Regions from separate parts of the Homo sapiens genome. Here regions 2 and 3 are each linked to region 1. Evidence: fine-mapped expression QTL. A gene starts in region 1. Each other region holds a variant in brackets. All regions are shown on one strand. Distances are between the middles of the regions.

The links.
Region 2: its variant is fine-mapped to the expression of FSTL4 in whole blood (INTERVAL, PIP above 0.99).
Region 3: its variant is fine-mapped to the expression of FSTL4 in whole blood (INTERVAL, PIP 0.98).

What each region holds. Positions count from the first base shown.
Region 1 is chr5:133,608,229-133,616,406 of GRCh38, reverse strand. FSTL4 (follistatin like 4) reads left to right here and starts at 3,866. Exons shown (of 16, transcript NM_015082.2): 1 at 3,866-4,082. RefSeq lists a silencer at 5,135-5,184.
Region 2 is chr5:133,523,531-133,531,708 of GRCh38, reverse strand. All of the region lies in intron 3 of FSTL4 (follistatin like 4), which reads left to right. Among named protein-coding and RNA genes, the nearest start is that of FSTL4, 85 kb to the left of the region's middle. RefSeq lists an enhancer at 6,389-6,889. The variant C/T (reference allele first, on the strand shown) is at 5,028.
Region 3 is chr5:133,236,150-133,244,327 of GRCh38, reverse strand. The region is part of intron 7 of FSTL4 (follistatin like 4); the gene reads left to right. Among named protein-coding and RNA genes, the nearest start is that of FSTL4-AS1, 16 kb to the left of the region's middle. RefSeq lists enhancers at 1-521, 3,243-3,743, 3,534-3,813, 3,744-4,244, 7,844-8,178. The variant C/G (reference allele first, on the strand shown) is at 4,984.

The DNA of each region.
Region 1 (8,178 bases):
GAGGAAAAGAAAGAATGGAAGCTCCCTAAGGTAGCAGTTCACCTTTAAAATTAGATAGATAGATAGATAGATAGATAGATAGATAGATAGATAGATTTAGATTTTCACATTATTTATGATTCTATACTGGTGAGTTGGAAAACAGGGTCATGATAAAAATTATGTTGTCCCTTTCAAAGAAAGGAAATTGGCCCCTCTTTTCACTCTCCTCTTAATATGTTCCCTCTTTCATCCCTTTTGCCTATACTCAGTAGGGTATGATAGTTTGTGGCTGTAGGCCTGGCCATCTCATCCCCAATTATCCCTTGTAAACAATACATTCTTAAGAGTAGCAGACTTCAGTTTCCTCCTGTTATCAGCACCTTTCTTGGTCCCCTTGTGCCATCAATCCAGCCCCTGTGAGTTTGCTGGGAATTTGCCTTGGTAACAATGCCATGGTGAGGGTTTTATGTTCATCTCCCTCCATTTTTACCATTCACAATTCCCTTTCCATCACTGCATCTTCTCATTTATCCCAACTTCTTCATTAAAATTCCTACTCTATACCACTTCTTCTTTGTCTCGAAAAATTTCCCCAATCACAGTTGTCCCTTGAATGAATACCTTATCTCCATGCTAGCTACTTTTCTCCCTGAAATAAAGTTAAAAACAATTATGTATGTGTAATCTTAAGTCTAGGATCTTGAACTTACTGCCTACATTCCCTTAATTTCTAGGTGATTAATGAATTATCATCTTAAAAATAAGCATTAATATTAGACTTAGAGGAAAACTTCAACATCATAGCTCTGTTTAGATCAGAATAACTGAACTTCTATAAATACAGGCAAAATAAAGGCATAGACCTTTAGAACTGAAAATGGCCTTAGACATGTCGTTTAGTATGACTGCCTCCCATGTACCCATTCCCAATTCCCACTTAAGAGAAAACAAGTTCTGGGAAAGGTGTGACTCTCCCAGGCTCACTGAGCCCTAGAGGCTGAGGCGGGAGAGAGACCCCATCCTTGTGCCTCCCATCCAGGGCTCTCCTAAGCACAGGGCTGGCTCTTCAGTAAACTGCATGGTTTGGTTTGAAGATTTACAAAAACATTTTTTGAACAGGCAGCAGAACGTTAAATTATGCAAGACAAGGAAGACTCTTTCCTGCCTTTTCCCACCTTCTCACATGACTTCCCAGTCTGGCTTCTAATGGGTATTTCTAGGCACTGTTTGACCAGCCTAGTGGGGACTCCCAAGGGTAAGCTGACCCACAGTTAGTGATGCAGATACTTTTGGTTGGATCTGGAGAAAGTGCCTTGCTTCCTCCTGATTCCCATGGCTATGTGTCATCTCTGAGTATCCTGATATGCAGGTGTAATCTGAAATGTCCTAAGAGACACACATCATTTGGCAGTAGTTTTTCATTATATTGTTGTGTTTTTGGTAAGGATTAGAAATAGAAAAAAGATTTTAAACCAGCAACGTAAAAAAATATTTGGGTTGCTTAAACTTTTTGATCTTGTAAAAGTATATTAATAATGTTTTTATGTGTGTCTCTGGCTGAACCACTCACCAAAAACAGAGTGGGGCTGGGGGGCAGTAACTGGAATTTATGTTTCCTTTTAGCTCCCCTATTCCAAGCTTATTGAATTACATGAAGTTCAAAACTTAACCATTATTTCCCCTAAGAATCCTAGTTGGCTATTGAGAATCAGTATGCTTGCAAGTTCTGAAACAGGGTTTCAGGCAAATTTTGAAATTCTCAGTGTGAAATCTAGCCTATTTTCCAATTTGGGGTGTACTATTAAACAAAAAATTACACTGAGAGGTAAAAGCACAGAGCAATTCAAAGAGGTGTCAAGGTTACTGGCATCTGATGCTGCTTCCCTGGAGCCTTGTTTTATTTTGTCATTCACACTTCACCTTTCTCATTCCGAGGTGACTTTTAATTTCACTCTTATTTTATGCACAGTAGTTAAACAGCTCACTTCAGATGTTAGCATTCTCTCTAAGGAATATTCCATACATCTGGTTTGCAGCAACTACCTTCTTCTCCTTCTTTGGGAAGCGTGTAGAAGTTCAGTGCCTGTTCACTGCATTAAACAGAGCTATTTCTGATCTTGGTCAACCTATAGACCCTGATTTACATATGACCTTGAGTTACTAAAAAACAAAAAATACACAAAGTCCTGCTTTGATTATGTAATAAGGCCACTAGGTTGACTCAGGGACTTTGTGATCAGAGCTGAGAATAGAAATCTGCTTTTCCAAATACCTCATGTCTTAGAGGAGAGCCGAATCCAGCCTCTAAGCCATGGTGTACGTTCCTGACCACAGACTTAGAATTACATTTCAGAGGGAGGCACAGCACATTTCCAAACTTCCCTGCTTCCTTTTATACTCATTTTCTCTTTTCTGTTTCCCAAGATGAAAAGTGCCATCCCTTCCCCAGTCCTGCCATGGAGAATCTGGCCCCTAGCCAGCCCCAGAAGTTCAGTCATGGTGGCCTTGGCAAAGATTCATAGTCAAATCTGAGAGAGGATCACACTGGCTAGGGCCCAGGGTCACTGAGGATGTAGTAGCCTTTATCCTTCTGAGTAAAAATCATGGTATCCACATGGGAAGTCAACCAGGTTTTGTCCAACCCCTCATTTTACAAGTGGGGAAACTGATACCTACAGTAGAGATACGATTGGCTCTGCATTACATAGCTTGGCAGTGATAGAGGGAGAGCTGGACCCCAGACCAAAACTGTGTGATGCCAAGACCGCGCTGGCCCATTCACTGCTGTATCTCTAGCAACTATTAATAGCACAGTGCCTGCTGCATTGGAGGGGTTCAGCGGCAGGAAAATCTGTGGAAGGAAAAAACAAACGTAATATCTCTTTCTTCAGGTCAGCCTTCCATTATTCTTCCCCTTTTCCTTATATTTAACTAACTTCATCCTCAGAAAAATCCCCTCTGTCACCTCCCCCCGGCCAGGAGAGATTACAGAGGCATGGACAGAACACTGTTCACCTAAGCCAGGAAGGCCCCTGGTGCCCACGCAGCCAGAGCAGGAGGCAGGCCCTCAGAAAGTCTCCTGGCCATCAGCCTGGCCTGGGTAGGGGCTCCCTCCTAAGTTTCCTGCCAGACTGAGGCTACGTATGACCATTTATGGGCCCCTAGTTGTTACAAAGGTGTTTCCAGTTCATTCGGGAAGGAAGACTGATCTCAAAAGCTGCTGATGTTAAAGAGGGATTCAGAAAAGTTTGGGAGCCCCAGGCTTGGGGATGGGATCAGGATGGGGAAATATCCTGTTCTAAGGGAGAAGGGACCCTCTGGGCCCAGCTAGGTCAGGTAGGCAAATGTCACTTGGGATTGCCCCTGTATGCCCTGAATGTCTTAAGATTCTGTAGTTGGAAGAGGGAAGATTCAGAAAAGAGAAAACCTTTGCTGTTTCCCAGGTTGTTGGGTCTCAACGGCGGGGGATTTCACCCACTTTGTCCCCAGGGACAGCTCTCCTGCTGTGGTGTACCGGCCCGCCTGGACTCCACGAGCAATGGCCGCGGATTCAGAGACCCCCTGTGCGCCTGGAGAGCACAGCTTTGGGGAACCTGGCCCGGAAAGGAGCCTGGAGGAGAGCAGAGGTGAAGAGGGGCTGTCACTTGCCGAGCTCCACGCTAGCCAGAGGCAGGAGCGCTACGCTGGCCCTCCTCCCTCCGGGCCCTAGATGGCCCCAGCGCTCCGGAGTCATCGCGCCCCGCGTGCGCGCCCGCCTGCTCCGCGCACCTGCCGTGGCCGCCGCGCGGGTCTGACCGGCTGGCGGGCGGGCGGCGCGCACAGGTGGCGGCGATTGGGCAGGCGGGGCCCAGAGGGTGACGTCACGGGCTCCGGTCCCGGCGGCAGAAATAGGGCAGCCGCGGCGGCGGTGGCACAGCAGCGGGCAGCGGCGGCTCAGGGAGCTGGAGCCTCAACAGCCTCCAGCGAGCCCGGGACCCGCCGACAGCCCGAGAAACCAGCCGAAGGACGCGGGGCGGGGTCGCCGCCGCCGCCACGGGGTGCTCCCTCCCTCCCGCCCAAGTCCGGCCACCTGGTCTTCCCCTCGGCCCCGGCCGTCTCAGGTACGCGGGCGCAGCTCCCAGCGGGCGCGGGGAGGGTGCCATGTCGCTGGCGCCGCCACCAGCCGGTCCCGCTGCACCCCACTGGGGTCCTGGCGCCCGCGGCCCCGCATCTTGCTGCAGGGCCCGGCGCGGGCGCTTGCTTGTCCTTACTGCCCGCGCCGGGAAAGCCAAGTTTGCCCGCGGGGAAGGGACCGCTGGGCCAGGGCTCGGCAGGGCTACCCCGGCCAAGGCCAGGACTCGAGGAGAGGCTGGGACGCCGAGGCTCGTGGCCGGGGTCTACGGTGGGGACCGGAGTGACCCGGTTGGCACGCGGGGCGCCACGCAGAAGCGCTCGGGCCGAGCCCGCAGCTCGCGCCCGGCTCCGAAATCCTGCAGGCGCCGTTCTTGGGTTCAGGACCCCGAGCGGCCCCGGCGGAGCCAGGCGAGCGCGGCCCCTCGGCCCGGGCCCGGTGCCCTTGGCTCCGGGTTGGGGCGCCGGGCAGGCATTCTCAGCACCTCCTCCCCGCGGCTTTGCGGGGAAACTTGCGTCTCCTCGCTGCAGCCCAAAGGGCCCGCTGCGCTTCGCCTGGCCCTGGCTTCCCCGGGGTCCGCCGCATGTGAGGCTGGGGAGGAAGGAATCAGGGCACGACCCGACTCCAGGCAGCCTGCGGCGCTGCTTGTGCGTAGCCGGCCGCGGTCCAGAGTGAGCGGCCCGGGGTACCCGCTTGAACGTGTCTAGGGAGCAGTGTGTTGGGGGCGTTCAGCGTTCGGGCTGGGGGCTTGGTCCTAAGAGAGCTTGCACTGTGGATGATCTCCGCCCTCTTTGCGCCCGCAAAACAAAGACGAGTTCTGAGTTTCAGGAGGGACCTGGACGAGGCAGGCACAGCACTCTGCTTTCGGCGCCTGTCGCCTCGAGTTTGGGGACGAGCTGACGCTAGTCTTTGGGGCTCCCTGCAGCCGACAAAGCGGCGCCAACCCCAGGCCTGCCACCTGAGGACTTTGTGCCCGCAACTCTTGCGGGAGCGGAAAGCCGCCGAGGCAGTGGGGTTTCTTGTTTTCCAGAGCGCGGCGAGCCTCCGCGCGGCGCGGCAAGTGCACTAGGAGTGCGCGGGTCAGCGGGGCGGGCCCGGCGAGGTCGGTGTCGCGGCTCGAGAGCGGGTGCCGGGGCGCTGTCCAGCAGCCCTCGCTCGCGGCCGCGGGCCGCCGACACTGATGAATGGCGCGGCCACAGCCCGCCGCTCCCCTCTAGGTGTCGCTTCCGCCGAGCTTTCCTCCAGTGAAAAACAGCGCCGGCAGCTTGGTCTGTTACCTTCGTAAATTTGTTGCAAGCCTGTGCACCAGGAATTGTACTAGATGGGGCCCCCGAGATACAAACATCCGTCCAGGTTCTCTGGGCCAAACGTAAACAGAATTTCAATAGGTGGTGAAGTAACTGCCAGCCAAAATGTTCACCGGGAATGGGCCTGTGTCACAATCTGTGAGGGGAAAAGACGGATCAGTGAGCGACTAGGACTCTTCTTGAAAGTCCTAAGTTATTTTCCTACTGCCAAATTTAGGGGAAACCAGCGATGCTTTTTAATAGTGTCTTCTTAATCCTGGGAGCCAGGCGCCAGTTTCTGTGCCTGCCCCTCTGGCCCCCAGGACAGACTCTGGGTCTGGTTGGCGGGGGGTCCACCTGGGAAGGGAATGGTCGGAGGTGTGAGTGATGCAGCTTCTGAGACTCCAGAGCCACAGCAACTCTCAGGCAGGAGCTCAAGCCGGACATACGAGCAGATGCCCTACAGGGCACGTGTCTGCTTCCCATCTTAGCGTTGTGAGAAGGAGGCACTGCAGCATCACTAGACCATTTCTGCCATACTCTGCTAAATGTTCGCTTTTTCCCTCCCATCCTAGGAAAAAAAGGCACCACCCTCTCCAAAGACTTCAGACTGAGCCAAAGTTCACATAAGAAAATAGTCCACTTTGATGTAATGTATTTAAATTGCTCGTTAGAGTTGTCCTAGTGCTTTTTTCTCTCTTAGACTTTTATGATCATCCTCAATTTTTGTTGATTCTAGGAAAGCTCTTTTTCTTCTGGAAAAGGCCAGCTTGTTTTTCTGGGTATTAGGAGAACTTTTATCCTTTCGGCTGTGCCCTGGAGGTGGGTGAGGGAAGAGGAGGTTGGATTTTTCCACCATGACCAGTCAGTCACTGAGGACTTTTTTTCCTTTTACTAAGGGCCGTAGGACTTTTTAAATGTGACCTTCACGTTATGATCTTTTGTTTGACTTAACACTATATTCAGAGACTAGCATTGAATAGTCATTGTTTCATAAAACTACCTTAACTCCTACCTTGCCTTGTTTGAGTGTTTCTCTGCAAACTCAACCTTCTTGAGTTGCTTATGTGCGGTTAGTTGTGTGCTTCCTAGCTTAATGCAATTAGATATTTCAAGAGCACATCTTTCTTTACATTTTCTGTCTCAATGCATAACATAAGGCATGGAATTTCCAATAAAATAGAACTGCAATCAAGAGCATGTGGTTCTTAAGAGGTATGAGCTGAAGGTTGTAAGGATAAAGGTTATTGGAAGTCACATGTGTGTCTGTGTTAAACGTCAGAGTAAATAGGAATAGAGATTTATACATGGCACATAGAATAATGTAGCCATCTAATTTATCAAGTGTTGGGGAAGAATTAACTAATGATATAGAGTAGATAATTAATAGGAAATGCAATTTAACTTCATTAGGGCTTGCTGCAACGTTAGCTTGCTATATCTCCATGCCTAATTTCCCTGGGTTGGTGTTTTAGGGACTGTCTTAGGAAATCTGTACCACTTTCTTTTTTTCTAAAACACTCACATATCAAAACTAGGGTCGTAAGCCTTTGAGAGGTTCCCGTACAGCCTCCTGGTTTCACGCTGGGGTTGATGTGGCTTTTTTTCCCCCTTTAAATTTGAGCAGACATGCAGAAGAGAATTCCACGTTGTATTCAGTCAGTATTTGGAATTCCAGAATCCCAGTTGATTTTTATATGTTGATTGCCAACATGCCATGTATGAAATGCTACACACCTACAGTGTGTGTAGGGCAGACACTTTTTCATTTGGAAAGGTTGAGAATGCAGATGCTTCAGGGTCACAAATCTGACTGTTCTCTTCAAGGCTGGGTGGCATTGCTTGGTTCTGCCAAATCATCTTTGTAATTTCTGGTCCTGTTGATTACAAAAAGAAGCCATTTCTGTATGGCTAATCCTTAATGGCTAGTCTGGTAAAGTTACCAAGTTCTGGGAGAGAGGCTGAGAGAGAGAATGGATGAACAATGCCACCGAAACTCTGAGGGCCAGAATTCCCATTCTTCCCAACAGGGCTGTTTCCTGGAATAGAAAGAGAAGTTTGTATTAAACCCATTGCCAGTTTAATGGGATTGCTTCTCTCTGGCCTATGAACTTGGTCAATAAAGACAGCTTACATGCCTGTGTGCGTTCTCTGGGTGGGGCAGATTTTGGTATTTTCATATGAATACCTATTTCTCCCTAACAATTTGCATTCCTATTTCATGCTTTTTCAGCTTTCTTCAAAAAGCAAGTCAGTATTTGGAATGTTACATCATACTAACCTGTAATACCTCTGTAATTCTAAATACAGATAAATAATAGCACAGATATTAGCTTATTTTAGAACACCTGAAAATCCTGTGGTTTTCACAAGGAGGTAGACAATCTAGTGGAGGTCCTTCAGCATTGAGAAAAGCAAAATCTGCCTATCTAAACAAAGAATCCAAACTCCCACTCTAGATGTAAGTGTGCCATAATATAAGGAACCAAACAGTTGCCCTGGGGGCAGGATGCCTGGGTTCCAGTTTAGGCCTAGCCACTGATTTGTCCTTGAACCTGGGTGGATTCGTCCACCTTCTGGTCTTCTGGTGTCCTATCTATGCGGCAGCCAGGTTAGCACCAGGTTCTCCTGACTGGGGGAATGTCTGTTGAAGCTCTGGTAGGAAACCACAGGGGAAGCAATGAAACACCTCCCTTCCAAACAAGATGGTTAAAGCATCAAGTCAGTGTACTTTATGACTTGTTTGGAACAAAAGGTAGTCTCAGCTCTTTATATGGGGACAGTCCTAGGTAGATTTAT
Region 2 (8,178 bases), 85 kb after region 1:
TGACTGGCAATTGGAGAAGGATCATCTTTCCCTTTCTACTTTCTCATTTCACACTGATTTATTGCAAGTTGTAGCTCACAGTCTTAGCAAATGAAACAATTTGTTGCTCACTCCATCGCTGTTCATTCCCCAGAGCTGAGAGGCCTGCTTAGAAAAATGTTCTTTTAGGGAACAAATGCAGTGTGGAGGGGCTTGGCTGCTGCCAGTGTGGAGGGATCCACACTCCACACTCAGCTCTGGCCCTCAGTCTTTCCAGGGGATATTCCACGGCAGAAGTAGGACGCTTAAGGCCTCATGAGTCATGGGTAAGAATAATCCTGAAACTCATGATGTGGGTCCCTCTCTGACAAGGTGACCACAGAGATTAGGGCCAAAGTCAGGGCCCCAGACATCTCACTTCCTCCCCTTTCATGCCTCACTCATACCACTGGGGGACGGGGTCAGCACATTCTTCCAAAGAGGTGCCTTGTAACAATTGCTTTAAAGGAACATGTTGACAAGAAGGTTGCTAAGATTTCGATGGAAAGATGTTGAAAGAAACCGTGTGAAGAGAGCATCCCATCAATGATCAGCCAGTGAGACACAAGGAGGGGTCAGTCCGTGTGTCTGAGCCCATCCTTTTCTGCATTCGCTCTCCCGGCAAAGAAGAATATCGGCCCTATCCAGGGCCGAGCCTCATCTTCAGTCCCACCTTCTAGATGTGAGTCTGGCCCATGTCCAGTCTGGGCACAGCCTACTGTGGTCCAGGCTTGCGCAGCATTTGGCACTGGGGCAAGATCCCATATCAGAGTCTGTGGGTGTTAGAGGGAAAGACCACGGAGAGCCCACTCAGGGCCTGTGTGAGTCTGAGTCTCTGGCCCAGCTCAGCCTGCCAGGTCTCTGCACTGGGGTGTGGGGCCTGGGTATAGCCCTTAGTTAGGGGTTTCTTGGCCCTCCTCTGTCAATGTGCCTTGTTTATCTTGGGGCTCCATGGTGAAGGGTCCCTGTTGTCGGGGCAGGGTCCCTGGCCATAGGTCCACCTAAAAGTGGCACAGCCACACAGCAATTTCTAGCTGGAGGAGATGAGGTTCTCTTTCTAGCTAAACTCATATGTTCTCCAGGACACATGCAAGATATTATGCCTGTGTCTTATCTTCTTCCTCACCACAATCTCCTTGAAGGCAGAAACTAGATTTGCTTCATTTAAGCTTATTTACTTGTCTTTGTCTTCAAGGCACCTAGGCTAGTGTTGAGCACACAATGCATGTCACGTGACTGAGGATTACACGTGGGCCCTGAGAACTGCTCCATTGTGAATGTCCCTGAGCAGGCAGCGAAGGTGCTGAGGTGGGCACCTGGAGTCCAGCAAGGTGTTTTTAACCTGCTGTAACCTTGAATTCCAGCATGAGTGGGGAGGCATTTCTGCGGCTCCTAACGGTGCTATCCAGGGCCGCAGTGCTCTTGGCTCATGCTGCAGCTTCAGAAGATGCTGATTTGCTAGTTTTCCCTGAACTGTTTTTTCTTCTCTCTGAGATCAGTGATTCCCACCGTCGGTTTTACAGCACCCCAGGGTGTCTCCAGCTGTCTCAAGGGCTGGCACAGAAGTCTCAAAACCATTTGCTTCAAACAAAAAACAAATACACAGAATACAGCAGTTTTAGCTGAATTTGGAGGCAGGAAAGAAAAAAAGTCTAACAAAATCCAAACAAGCAAATTGGGTGTCACACTCCAAAAAGCTGGACTCGCTGCCTTAGAAAAGAGAAATGGTTACACAAAGTCACGTCTTCATGTACTGGTTTGGATCCGTGTTCTGAGGACTGCTGCACAAATCCAATCAGACAGGACGCTTAAAAAAAAAAAAACCCGAAACATTTTATTGCTTTATTTTCCTTTCCCATAGAAAATAAATATTACACAGATGAATAGCAATATACAAAAAACCATTCAACAGAGTTCTGAACCAGCAACTCTGAAGGGTGAGTCTTCAACGAAGCAGAACTTTACCATTTGCTGAGCCTCTGTTTAGGAGAGGGTTTAGAACCAGAAATGCCCTGTCTGGGTTGGGGATCTTTTAGCTCCTTGATCAGGCACCAGGGAGGCAGTGTTGTCTAATTATCCTCATCTATAAAATGGAGATGATAATAATCATACCTCATAAAGTTAGGAGAATTCAATAAATTAAAATTTATGAAAATCTTAAAACAGAGGTTGGTGCATAGTAAGCATTATGTCAGTGTGTGCTCAAGAAAGCATTGGGAGCCTGCAATGTACCAGGCCTGGTGCTAGCTTGGTAGGTTCCTGGGCTGACTGTTTGTGTCTGGGTTGGTTTTTGTCTCATAGGGAAGACAGAGAAGGAGACACCTGAATAAAATACCTTGTGATGAATGCTAGTTCCCCACAGAGTCATGTGAGGATTCTTAATTAAAACATGGATTCTGGTGCTGGCATTTGTTGTTAATATTTTGGGCAAGTCATTTATCTTTTCTGAGCCTTTGGGTATTCACAGGGAATGCTAGGTTCCAATAACAAATAGTCTCCATGATTTCAGTGGCTTCACACAATGGACATTTACTTCTTGCTCCAGGAACAATTCTGAGCAGGTGTTCAGATTGTCAAGGCAGCTGTCTTCCACATGGCCATTCGTGGATCCAGGCTGACAATGGCTTCCAAGATTACCCTGGGGATCAGCATCCCAGGCAGCCGGAGCAAGAGCATGGAGGCTCCCCCATGCCTGTGGGACGTTCTCATGGGCCAGACCTGGAGGTGGCACTGCTCACTGCCATGCACATTCTCATGGAGGAGACTTAATCACATGGCCACATCTAATGGCAAGAGAGGCTGGAGATAGCGAACAGCTCTGTGTCCAAACAAGAACAGGTTTTACTAGACATCTCAATTTGTTTATTTCTAAAATATGAGGTGGTATCCCTGCCATGCTGACTTACACGGGTTGTTGGGGGAACCATGCACTATAATGGATATCAAGTCACCTGGGATGGAAGGAGCTGTGTGGACAAGGGAGTTGTTGGCTGGGAACAGTGGCCTTGGCCTGCAGAAGAGTGGGGCAGGGGTTCTGCTGGTGTCTCAGCAGCACAACTCAATTCAAAAAGTGTTCACAGAGGAGCGTGCCAGGCTCTGCCCTGGGTGCTAGGGATGTAGTCATCCCATGACAAGCTCAGGGAGGAGGAATCACAGTTCAGCGTGACATGTAGCATGAGAGCTTGCATGTGGTGTCGAATCCAGACGCGGTGGTCAGGACATCCTTCCCAAGGACAGGGCATCTAACCAGAGAACAGAAGGAGATGGCCCAGTGGGGCAGGGTGGGGCAGGGGCCAGGTGGAGGGAGGGTGTTTAAAGCAGAGAAAATTCCATGAGAGCAAGAGAGCATGGCTTGAGTTAGGAACAAAAACTCAATATGAGCAGATGTTAAATGGAGGAGAAGAAGCCAAGAGTTACCAGAAAGGTTGGCAGAGCTTGTAGGCCATAGTGAGGCCTAATGGGCAGCTCACCTTTCTGTGGGAAATCCCCCCTTTGTTAAAGGTGACTTATTTCTTAGAGCCATAATAGTGTGTCTTTGAAATTGTTACGGAAACAGCAAGAGGGGACATGGCATTTTACCTGCAACCACATTCCACCTGTTCCACTGTGTACACCTGAACCAAATCCCTGAAATGATAACACTTATCAAGGTTATTCTGTGGTGCTTGGGCTAACCCTGATGACCAGGTTCACCCTCCTTCCCAACATAGGCATCTGGCTTGGAGGAGCTAAATTAATAAGATTTGTGTCTTAATAACTTGCAGGTGAGTGCCCAGTGTTCCTTGGGGGTGGGAAGCCAAGCAAGGCCAAGGCTGCCATGTGGGGTGGCTGACCCCTGGATATCAGGGGGGTTACTTGGACTCTTTTGTCTGGGCCCAGAATTGACATAGCTGTCTGGGCCAGGCACCCTGCTGGTTATCACTCCATAGCTCAGTCTGTGTGTGATGTGTCTTTTGCACCTTCACCTTCATGTTTCCAAATAAGGAAAAGTGCAATGGAGAGAAGGGGAGAATATTTCTATAATGTGAATGACTCTTGCTACTCTGAGTTCCCTCAGCTGTTCAGTTTATAATTCTTATAGGATCAGTTCAGGCCTGCATTTCCAGGGATGATGCTTGGCTGTTTAACAGCATTTTATGTCTGGAATGCTTATAACATCGGTCAGTTATGCAGTGAATGCACTTATGGGTGTGTGTGTGTGTGTGTGTGTGTGTGTGTACACGTGCACATCTCAGAGCAAAAGAGATCACAACTGAGAGGCTGAGAGAACAGACACTGGCTAGCCCTGCCTGATTTGGGGGTGAACCCTGGTCTTCATGAGGAGTCAGAAGCAGTTTCTAGTGAAAGTAGCATGTCTCTTTGAGGCATAAAGCTTCACCAGTCTTCTTGGAACCTTGACTAATTTTTGATTCTCTGGTTCCATGAGCCAAGCATTATACTAAAATATACCCCTCAATTTGCAGAGAAGTGGAAGGTGTTCAAACACAGAATCAAAATAAAGGATAATTTTCCATCTTCTGCTGAAACCTCTCATTTTCCAGCAATGTAGAAACAAAACAAGAGACGAGAGGACATGTGGGGACTGAGAATGAGTGCATTAGCAGTCTTTTGGAGATACCCACACAGACCTGATGAGCTTCTCAGGACAGAGGGCTGCACTCAGGATTCATCCTCATCCACAGTGATTGTGGCTGTGTGGACTTACACAACTGGCAGCTTGCTGCCAGTTGCCGCTCTGTTGGGTAGGAAAAAGGAGGACTTGGAAACTGCCTCCGGAGAGCCTTTTGGAGGTGAAGGAAGTTGGCTGGCAACTCTGTCCACTCAAGCTCAAAACTTCAGCCCGTTCACCAGCTCCTGTTGGTCCAAGTCTGAATTGTCCAGGTTGGCCGACAAGTTCTGCTCCTTCTCCTGTTTCGCATTCATCCCATCTCCTCCTGCTACTCCCATGTGGTCAAAGTCCTCATCCCCAGCTCCCTGCAAAGGCCTCCCCATGAGCCTCCCTGACCCTG[C/T]CTGCATAGCGCCACTTCACAACTCGTCCGCAAATGTTATCTTCTCACCACTGGCCAGCTCAGTTGGGGTTGGAGTGTGTGTGATAAGCTAATCCACGTGGAGATCTAAATGGCCTCCAGGGGTCATTAGGAACCCTCACTTTTTTTCTGCCCAAATTTCAAGACCATCCGTGGGGGATCCTTACCCTACCTCTCCAATAGGAGTCGCACCCTAACCCAGCAAGTCCCCTTCGTTCTGGCTGTACATTTGGGCTTTCCCTATTTGTGAATGGATTCTCCTCTTCCTCCAAGACCCAGCTGAGATCTCATCTCTGCAAAGACTTCTCAGTTCCCTCCTGTTCACCTTCTTTCCCTCAACACTCAAAACCCACCCCTCATTGTCCAGTGCTTGATAATGAGGCTACCCCCTTGGTTTCATGAATTGCTTCATCTCCCCAGCTGTATAGTGAAGAGAATAAAAATAGCCACAGTGTATTGATCATTTACCGTAGGCCTCATAAATATCATGGCATTTAGTATGTCCAATAACTGTGTGTGATAAGTATCAATGTCTCATTGTAGTTAGAAAATCACAGTGCTAGGTATCAAAGCTGTTCATCTGTTAAAGTCGTGCTTTCCTCAGGGCCCTCAGTGTGTGTGTCCCGTGAGAGGTGCTCAGTAGACAGTTGAGAGAATAACAAGCTGCTCCGTCTCCCCCATGACCCTAGCACCCAGCACAGTGCTGAGCATGTAATACATGCTCAACTAATATGTCTTTGACAGACATATTTGAAGGCATAAAGAGCTAGGAGAATATTGACAGTTCCCACTGGCTGATGGAGTAAACCAGGGCTTCAGGAGTCAGTCTAGAAGTCCAGATTCTGGTCCGAGTCCTGCACTGGTCAGCTGAGGGACCTCGGGTCCTGCTCACCCCAAGACTCAATTTCTTCATTTGCATGACAAGGGCTTGTGCACAGGTTCTGTGAACTCTGGAATTCTTGATGCTTTTACTCATTCCCTGAAGAGGTTAATTAGGACGAAGTGCTCTTTAACTGGCAATTACACTGCTGCGATATAGCTTGTTTAGTGAGGCCGGCATCATTGCCAAGGCCAGGACGGTTTCTGATGATCATTTGCCAGTCTCAGGAGAACAGAGACCGTGAGGAGACTGCTTAAGATGAATAAGAAACTCCCCCCACTCACCATCAAATGAGAAAGCTATGGATCCAGAGCTGGGGAACACCACTGGGCAGGATGGTTTCAATGCCCCTAATTTAGCTTGCTCTAATTCTCCCTAAGCAGCTCTTTCTCAGTGGGAAACAAAGAAGCTGCCTTTGAGTGGGAACTCTGTGTATCCTTGTGAGGTAGAAGTCAGGCACAGGCTAACCAGACATGGACTTGGGCAGTGCAGGGGGAAACAACCCAGCCCTCATCAAGCATCACGCTTGGCTTGGCCAGCTCTGTTTGGGGTGGAATGTGCGTGATAAGCGAATTCACATGGAGATCTAAATGACTGCCAAGGGTCATTTGCATTTCTAACCAAAGGGATACATAATTAATGGTAGCTCTTGAGACATCAAACTGACATATCGACTGTGGGCCTGTTTTGCCAGAACAGCGGAAAGGCTGGGGCACCCGTCTGCTGGGAAGACTCCATGTAACAGGGTTAAAAAGGTAAAGTTTCAGAGGACTTTCTGATCCATGAAGTTAGTGGTGCATGTGTCTGTTCAGGGACTCCTCATCTAAAGCATTTACAGACATATTAGCAAGATTAGGTGACTCCAAAGGGCTGTGAGGAGGACTGAGTACAGTGAGGCCAAATTCAGTCCTGAAACCTAACATCTGCCAGTGCATCTGAGTGGGTGCCCAGTGGGTGGCCTCACTCACTAGCTGGGCCAGGCAGCGGGATGGCTGCCTTTTGTGTGCAGAGGCCCATGGGGGCTGTCTGTTGGTTGTGATTTTCCTGGCTTTAGCGCTATACGTTTGAATCACTGCAGTATTGTACAACCCACCCAGGGGCGGGGTGGGGGGTGCATTTCTGGAGGGCCCTCTATGCACCTGTTAGTATTGCAAGTACGGGTCCAAAGAGACGCAGCTTGGAAGAAGCACACGTTCTGTGGTGCCCCTGTCTACAGCAGGCTTCTCTGCGCGAAGTTGTTTTAGCCCTCTGTTCTGCAAGTTACAGCATCTTGAATGAGGCAAAGTGACACACGGGCAAATGGTGTGTATTCCCTACAAACTCCTCAGAGTTGACACCGCTCTCGCCTTTCTTCTTGCATTGCCAGAGGCTGTGACTCTGGCTCTTCACTCTTCAGTCATCACAAAGCCTTTTCCCTTTATCATGTCAGACCTTGGAAAACCCACAGTCATGAAAATGATTTATCTTCCTAAATTGTCAGTGATCTCCCATTAGGCTTAGGATAAAATCCAATTTCTTCCCAGGCCTCCAAGGGCTTGTGTGATCTCACCTCTGCCTGCCTGTCTCCGTTCAAGCCCGTCCATCTCTCTCTCCAGCTTCCCATGCTCCAGACACGCTGACCTGTCCTCCTTCTGCCCCTCAAGCAGGACACACCTGCTCCCACCCTGGGCCTGTGCACATGCTGTGCTGTCCCCTCTCCCTGAGCGGCTCCCCTCGGATCTTTTGTGACTGCTGCTGTCTCATCTGGTGTCTCCCAGATGTTAACTTCCCAGAGAGACCACCACTGACGTTCCTGTCACAAGGACACCCGTCTTCCCTGCCCACCTGTGACTTTGTTTTAGCTTCTTCACAGCAATTGTTATTATGGGAAATTGTCTTATTTATTGTTTAATGTCTGTACAGTGGACTAGGATGTCGGCTCTAAGACAAAAATGTCCTCTCAGACTTGGTATTTTAAAATGTGTTTCAAATTTACAATTGTAATAAATGGGTAACATAATAAATAATAAATTGTATATTAGGTCCCTGGACTGCTGTTGAATGAATGAATGGCAACAATGATAGGAGTAGTTGCTGTTTATTGAGTACCTGTTATGTGTCAGGCTCCACATTTAATCATCACACCAAACCCAAGTGACCAGTGCTGTCAACCTCACTTTACATATAAAAACATATTAAAAAAAACCAAGATTCACAAATGTTACATGATTTTCACTTTTGTAATAGGCGTAACAGCCTGGATTCAAGCCCAGG
Region 3 (8,178 bases), 370 kb after region 1:
TGTGCTCGGCATGACCTGGGCCTGGGCCAGGCGGCCCCCAGGAGTGTGCCTGTGCTTGTGTCTGGTAGAAGGGGAGACTTTGCCCCCAGCCCCTGCTGTGGGGCCCCCACAAGGGGCCATTCCCTGGTGAGATTCCCCTGTAGCCCCTGTCTCCTGGGGACTCAGGTCCAGGCTTTGGGGGCTGGGGTGAGACCCATCTCAGAAGCAGATCCACACATTCCCTCCCTACTCTGGCCCCCATTCTAGGTATTGGGGTTGGGAAGGATGGGGTGCTGCCTCACTTTCTGCAGAAACAGAACATGCAAACCCATTCTGGGCCTCAGCCCTCTGCTTCTCTGACCACCCAGCCTGCACAGCGGCCACTCGGAGGGTGAAGTGACTGTCCCCAAACCTAGTCGGCACATCCTGCCTCAACAATGTCACCCACCCTTCATCTCATAACTGTCTTCCTCACTGTCCTTTATGATCCTGAGGGCCAGGAGACAGGAACGGGCAGAAACAGGGACAGGGCATCTCAAAAGTCACAGGTAATGGCTGTTGGGTTGAACCATCACAAGTGTTGTTGCCAGTGTTGTTACCATTCATACACGGTGCAGGCTCCGTGCCGGTTGTGAGGTCATAAGCATCAGCTCATCCCATACCCCTGCCCCATGAGGCACGTGGGGTTAACTCATTCAGATGAGTGGAGAACTTGCCCATGGGCCTACAGCCACCTACATGCCCTGGCCCAGAGCTCTCTGGGTTTCTTGCTTGTGGGACATAATATCTAGCCCCCAGCAATTCCAAATCTTTGCTGTGGGGCTGTCTGTAGTTCCCAGGCCCCAGTGGAATGTATCAAATTGGATATGGGTCCCTGTGTGTGGAGCTCCTATTCTTACTGGCTGCTGGCCTCTGGCCCCAGCAAGGAAGGAAGCAACATGCTCTGAGACCAGCACGTGGAATTGTTTAGCCAGGATATTCTCAGGGAGAGAAAACATTTTTCTATTGTATTCTTTTTTAAAAAAACAGAAAAAACAAAAAGGCCTACAACAAACTCAGTATATTTCAAATGACTTGAAAGAGCCACTCTTTTTTGTTTTGGGTTTTTTTTTCACTGAATCTCGCTATTTGGGGCTTTCTAATGTCGGCAGGCAGAGTACGGTGATAAAAGCAAAAAACAAAACCCATTAGAAGAAAGTATTTGTGGCAGTGTTTGAAGGATGTGTTAAAATGTTCACTTTTCTCCCCATACCTAAATGGTATAAAACCAGGAACAAATAATTCTAATGAAGCGTATGCTCTCAGCTAGCTCTTCTTTGGAAGGGAGTTATTAAAAAGACCAAAAGAAAATGATTTAGGAGCTCATGACTCATTTAATTTTTATTGTCTTTATATGAACCAGTCATGAATTCATTGTAAAAAGATGAGAGGCGTTTGATTAGCATGGAGAGCTGTTTGCACCACGATAGACAGTGGTTGTAGGCTCTGCATTAAAATAATCTCATTAAATGCTTGGGTACATTTTGTTTTAAAATCTTAGAAAACACTACATTTGAAGCACTTAAAGGCTTTGGCCAATTCTCTGTAGCTTGTGTCAAAAACATCTGAACATCCAGTTCTTTAGAGTTTTGAATGTGCTCAAACCATTGGGAGTAGTGTCCAGAGATCTCCAAGATATGGGGGCCGGGGCCTATGGTACTCCAGCCTGTGGAACCTGTGGGGTGACTCTGCCCTGCCAAGTGTCTCCTCTGGCCTTTGCTTTCTCAGTGCCTCTTTCGAGGTCCTCTTTCCCCTCTTAGGGGAAAGCCTTAGGGGAAGCCCTGGCCTCAGGGCTTGACTTGTACTCAGTGACCACTTCCGGCCCCATCTCCAAGGTACAGGGTCCCACAGGAAGGTTCTGATTCAGCTTCTATACCCTGATTGCAGAACCCAGGAACTCCCCACAGAGTCTCTTCCTCCCTGAGCCTCACTGCCTCCCTACAGAGGCCCAGTCAATGAAGGAGGCCGATTGGTGCCTCTCTTGGCCACTACAGATTGGAGCCTACCCCTCCAAGGCACTCTCTGCACTAAGCAAGGACAAGGGAGTCACCAGGAGGTCCTGCAGCCCATGAGCCATGCCCAAGCACTGCTCTTCCTGGACTCCCCCTCCCCAGCCCCATGCAGCTGTTTCAGGTTTTGTCTACAGCAAACAAGACTGCAGTAAACATCCTTATACCCACCTCTTTGCACATGTGTGTAAGTTGACGTGTAAGATAAGTTCTCGGAAGTGATGCATTTTCAGTTTTGATGGGTTTTGCCAAATCTCTCTCCAAAATGGCTGCACCAGTCTACGCCCTCTCCAACAATGTGTAAGAGTTTTGAACACAGTGTCAGGAGGAAATTCCTAACTGAAAGTCGTCTTGGTCCCTGAAATGAGCCATAGAAGGAAATTTATTTAAATCCTCTCTGGAGTGTCTCAACGACAGGAATCAGCTGTCATGGCTGTGAGTGTGGTCCAAGTTAGAGTCAGGAGCTGAAACCCTTGGTAAGGCCTTCTCAGCCTGGGGATTCAGGATCCAAGGATCCCCAGGAAGAGGGTTGCAGGTTTCCCAAAGGAAAGCAGCAGGTGTGAGGTGGTCTGGAACTTCAGATGACTGCTACAGTGCAGTCTAGAACCTGAGTCCCTTCCCGCCCCAGCTGGGGATGCCAAGCTAATTAGCCAAGGAGCCAAAGCCCCATTCAAGGGCTCAGGCCTGCACCTCACCAGAGGGCCCCATTAGCTGCCACCCCTACTACATAACACTCTGGAGTCCTGGCATGTCAAGAGGTATTTGCCTGCTGGCCTCTAAGGGTGGACAAGTGGAGGGCTCAGAGCAATGTCTCTGGCATGAGCCTTCTGTTGCAGGTGCCTGGGCCTCTGTGTATACCCAGATAATCAGGTTTGTCCCTATACGCAATTTCAACACGCATACCACTAGGTCAGAACTTCCCTATTTGAGTTTTTGAGCCAACTGAAGTTGGCTCTTCGACAGAAGACACCCTCACTTCTGACATAAACTGGAAGTCAGGTGGTTCCCAAAACCACCCTCAGGTTCAACAATTTGCTGGAAAAACAGAACTCATTGTAAGTGTTATACTCACAGTTAAAGTTTAATACAGCAAAAAGAGTACAGATTAAAGTCAGCCAAGTGATGAAGCCCAAAGGGCAGAGCCCAGGAGGGCTCTAAACGTGGAATCTCTGTTCTCCTCTCCCAGTGGAGTCACAGACATGTCACTGTCACAGTGTCAATTTCCCAGAGAAGCTCACCCAGGCCTCGGTGTCCAAAGCTTTTGCTGGAGCTCATTCAAATACTGCCCACATGGCTGCCCTCTCGTCCCCAGCCCCTCTAGAGACAGAACTGGTACCACCTGGCCCAAAGACCCCAGGCAAATAAAGAGACCCCTATGAGGCATGACATTCCAGAGCCTAGAGATTGCCTCCCTGTAGCCAAAGAGGGCAAGGCCAGACCTCCCTGGGTAATATGAATTCTTAACTATCCTTCCTCTCAGGGCTTCCCAGGAGGTAGCATCCTAGGCTAACACACTCCCTGAAATCAGCAAATATTCATTGAGCTCAGTTATGCACAGGAACCACATGACACGCTGAGAATAATACAGTCATGCACAAAGAGATGAGTCATGCGCGAAGAGATGAGTCATGCGCTAAGAGATAAGGGCCTCCCCTTTGGCATCCACAGTCAGAAGAAGACTGACCGCACACACCAGAGGACACCCAAGTCAGCCAGGGACCACACATGCCCCGAGCCTTGGAAGAACCAGGTGCTCTCCCCACAGTGGCTTCTCTCATGCCTCCAACTCCCTCTTCCAGGCCTGAACCTGGGAACGAGCAGGAGGACAGGCCCACTCCAGGTTGCTCACACTGAATGCAGCTGCCCACAACAGCCCTCTTCCAGGGGGCTCAGACAGCTACTTAGAGATTGCTCCAAGTTGCAGAGACTTCTTTTTCTTGAGAGGACTCTGAGAAAAAGGATGGTTCCTCAGGTCTTTGCAGGATGGCAAGTCCGTCTATTATGTCCGGAATTGGTGGGTTCTTGGTCTCACTGACTTCAAGAATGAAGCCGCGGACCCTCGCAGTGAGTGTCACAGTTCTTAAAGGCAGCGTGTCCAGAGTTTGTTCCTTCTGATGCTCGGATGCGTTTGGAGTTTCTTCCTTCTGGTGGGTTCGTGGTCTCGCTGGCTTCAGAAGTGCAGCTGCAGACCTTCAGGGTGAGTGTTGCAGCTGATAAAGTCAGTGTAAACCTAAAGAGTGAGCAGCAGCATTTATTGCAAAGAGCAAAAGAACAAAGCTTCCACTGCGTGGAAAGGAATCCCAGCGTGTTGCCACTTCTGACTCCGGAGGTCTGCTTTTATTCTCTTATCTGGCCCCACCCACATCCTGCTGATTGGTCCATTTTACAGAGAGCCGATTGGTCTGTTTTACAGAGAGCTGATTGGTCCGTTTTGACAGGGTGCTGATTGGTGCGTTTATAATCCCTGAGCTAGACACAAAAGTTCTCCACGGTCCCCACTAGATTAGCTAGATACAGAGTGTCCACACAAAGTTTCTCCAAGTCCCCACCAGAGTATCTAGATACAGAGTGCCGATTGGTGCATTCACAAACCCTGAGCTAGACACAGGGTGCTGATTGGTGGGTTTACAAACCTTGAGCTAGATACAGAGTGCTGATTGGTGTATTTACAATCCCTTAGCTAGACATAAAGGTTCTCCAAGTCCCCACCAGAATAACTAGATACAGAGTGCCGAATGGTGCATTCACAAACCATGAGCTAGACACAGGGTGCTGATTCGTGTGTTGACAAACCTTGAGCTAGAGACAGAGTGCTGATTGGTGTATTTACAATCCCTTAGCTAGACATAAAGGTTCTCCAAGTCCCCACCAGACTCAGGAGCCCAGCTGGCTTCACCCAGTGGATCCTGCACCAGGTCTGCAGGTGGAGCTGCCTGCCAGTCCCGTGCCGTGCGCC[C/G]GCACTCCTCAGCCCTTGGGTGGTTGATGGGACTGGGCGCCCTGGAGCAGGGAGCAGTGCTCTTCTGGGAGGCTCAGGCTGCGCAGGAGCCCACGTTGGCAGGGAGGGGGGTGGGGGTGGGGGAGGCTCAGGCATGGCGGGCTGCAGATCCTGAGCCTTGCCCCGCAGGGAGGCAGCTAAGGCCCGGCAAGAAATCCAGCGCAGCAGCTGCTGGCCCAGGTGCTAAGCCCCTCACTGCCCGGGGCTTGCCGGCTGGCAGCCACTCCGAGTGCGGGGCCCGCCGAGCCCATGCCCACCCGAAACTCACGCTGGCCCACAAGCCCCTCGCACAGCCCCGGTTCCCGCCCGCGCCTCTCCACACCTCCCGGCAAGCTGAGGGAGCCAGTTCCCGCCTTGGCCAGCCCAGAAAGGGGCTCCCACAGTGCAGCGGCAGGCTGAAGGGCTCCTCAAGCATGGCCAGAGTGGGAACCAAGGCCGAGGAGGCTCCGAGAGCGAGCAAGGGCTGCGAGGGCTGCCAGCATGCTGTCATCTCTCACTATGAGGGACTAGAATGAAGTGAATGTCGCCGTAACCTCAGTGTTGGTCGGGAAGGTCAGCACTAGGGAGCCAGTATGTTGGTACGTGTGTGCACTCATGCGTGTACATCATCATGTGTACCACGTGTCCATGTAGATGTTTGGGTGCGCTCCCTCCCCCATGTGTGCACACTCGCATGTACTGCATGTGTCCATGTGGATGCCTGTGTGTGCTCACCCACATGTGCACACTCGCATGTACTGCATGTGTCCATGTGGATGCCTGTGTGTGCTCACCCACATGTGCATGTGGTCCTGGCTTGGTCTGGATAAGGGCCAGGGAAGTCTAGACGTGTTCGAGGAATGGCCATCACCGAGGCACCACATGTCACTCTGTGTTTAAGTTTGCTGCATTTGACTGTGCAGGTGAGATGCTACAGTTAGTGGCATTCTGGGGGCCAGAATTGAAGGATTGTTGGGGGAGAGACCCCCCCTTTGCTCCCTCCTCCCACAAAGAGAACCAGGGGTGCTCCTGAGGAGGGCAATGTCGGAAAAGCTCTGAATAATTGTTTCTCAACTGAGTCTGAACTTGTAACATTGACAGTATCATTAACCTAAACTCTAATATTACTCTGGAGTCCTTGCGTTGAACATTTAGTCTCTAAATATTCAGTATTGATGACTCATTTCCATATATACCTGACTCCCATGGATCACTATGACAACATCCCCCATCTCATCTCTGCTTAACTATTGTTTAATACTTAAGTCTCATTTAATTGTGTTCTTTATTAAGGGCAGATACTTAGAAAATCGCTTTTTAAAAGGTGAGAACCATGTCTTTAAAATTGTCTCTTTCCCAGAAAACAGATATGCATCAATACAAAGAATGGTCTAATCTGACATCTGTTTATTTCTGTAAGGAACCTTGATTTTGCTAATACAGTTCTATGCATCAGAGCAAAAAAAAAAAAAAGCCATCCATAAAGAGACAAGTACAGAGATGCAATCAAGCGTTGATAGCAGTATTCAGATGCATCTCAAAGAACATTCAGGAGAGGAAGGATTGCAGGCTTAGTTTTATGTAGCTTCTTATAAATCAATTGTTAAAGTAATTTTCTCTTCTCACATCCAATGAGGTAAATTTGATTTCTGTAGCCAGTATTCATATCCAGAAAACAATATGCGCTTTGTTCTGTAATTATATGATGCCTATCATTTTCACCCAGAGACGTTATTTTACTTATTACAGAGTCAGCTTCTCCTCCGAGCTGAAGCCACAGACAGGTAATGCTTAGGTTCTCACGGAAGAGCCATAACACACCCAGGAGCCCCTCAAGTCCTCCAAGGGCTGACACACACACCCCTCAGCACCTGAGTGATTGCCCAAGAGTTAAGTCTCTGCTCCTGGGGAGCAGGGATGTGTACTTGGTAAGCAGGAAAGAAACAGACAGTGAGGTTAAATGACTGTGTTGGAGGCACAGCACAAGTCATCAGTAGCGGGTGGGAATCCATGCGCGATGGGCTTTTCCATCTCTTCCTGCTGCTCTGAGCTTTGGTCAATTCCAGCGTGCCCCAGCCTGAGGAGTGCAAAAGAGCCTCGAGTTCTCCCGAGGGCTGCAGGACGGAGAAGGGGACAAGTGGGGAAGTGGGGACGAGACTTGAGACCAGTGCTCTGCTCCTCCCGCCAGCTGCCTCATTTTGAGCCTGTGTGGCTGGGTAATATTTGAGTGGACAGGAAGGCAGGTGGGCACCTCGGCTGTCAAACTGAAAGAATCCCCTCAGAAAGCCTAGCTCGGTGCCCTGTACAGTCCCCTCGACAGCTATTTTTTGAGGGCCCACTGTGCACCAGGACTGTGACAGGCACACAGGGCACAAGCCTCCCTGCCCTCCTCTGCAGAGCTCACATTCTGCAGGGGAAGACAGACAGCAAACAAGGTAAGTACAGAAAGCAGCAGGCGGCACAGCAGTGCGTCCACAGGAGGCGCCAAGCAGGGTGTGGGGAAGAGGTTAGGCTCCAGAAATGGGGCTGCCAGACAAGGTTGGAGCAGACTTGCAGGAGAGGGAGACAGACAGACAGCCTGGGAGGAGGGGAGCATGCCTGGCACACTAGAGCAACAGCAAGGGGAGTGTGCGAGGCAGTAGGGTCTGAGAGGGGCTGGCCCCCAGCAAACAAGGCTCTGAGTATGAGGGGCGTGATGTGGCTGGCTCAGGGCAGAGTCTGTGGGCCGGAAGCCGGGGTCCCTGGCATCACCCAGGAAGGTGGCAGCTGGCCAGAGCAGGAGCGATGGAGGTGGTGAGAGAAGACCCCACTCTGAATGAATCTGCAAGGAGAGCCTAGTGTCTCAGCCCCTGGGGAACTGGGCTTTTGTTTTGTTTTCTGGATTGGGGTTTTCAGGGTTTTTTTTTTCCTGAGGATTAAATACATACAAGGTGACGTGTAAGTTCCCGGCACACGGTAACCTCTTGAAGACCGTATGTTGGTATTAATGGGTATCAACCTGAGGTTGATATCTGGGAACAGTGGCCTTGGGACAGCCCTCAGAGCCCAGGGCCCATCTCAACCTGAGGAATGTGGTGGTGCTGATGACTAAACACCACCACACAGGTGGTGATGAGGGCAGGGCCTGCCAGAGCCTGAGGCCAGCTTCAAGGGCCATCATGAGAAGGGGCTGTGGAT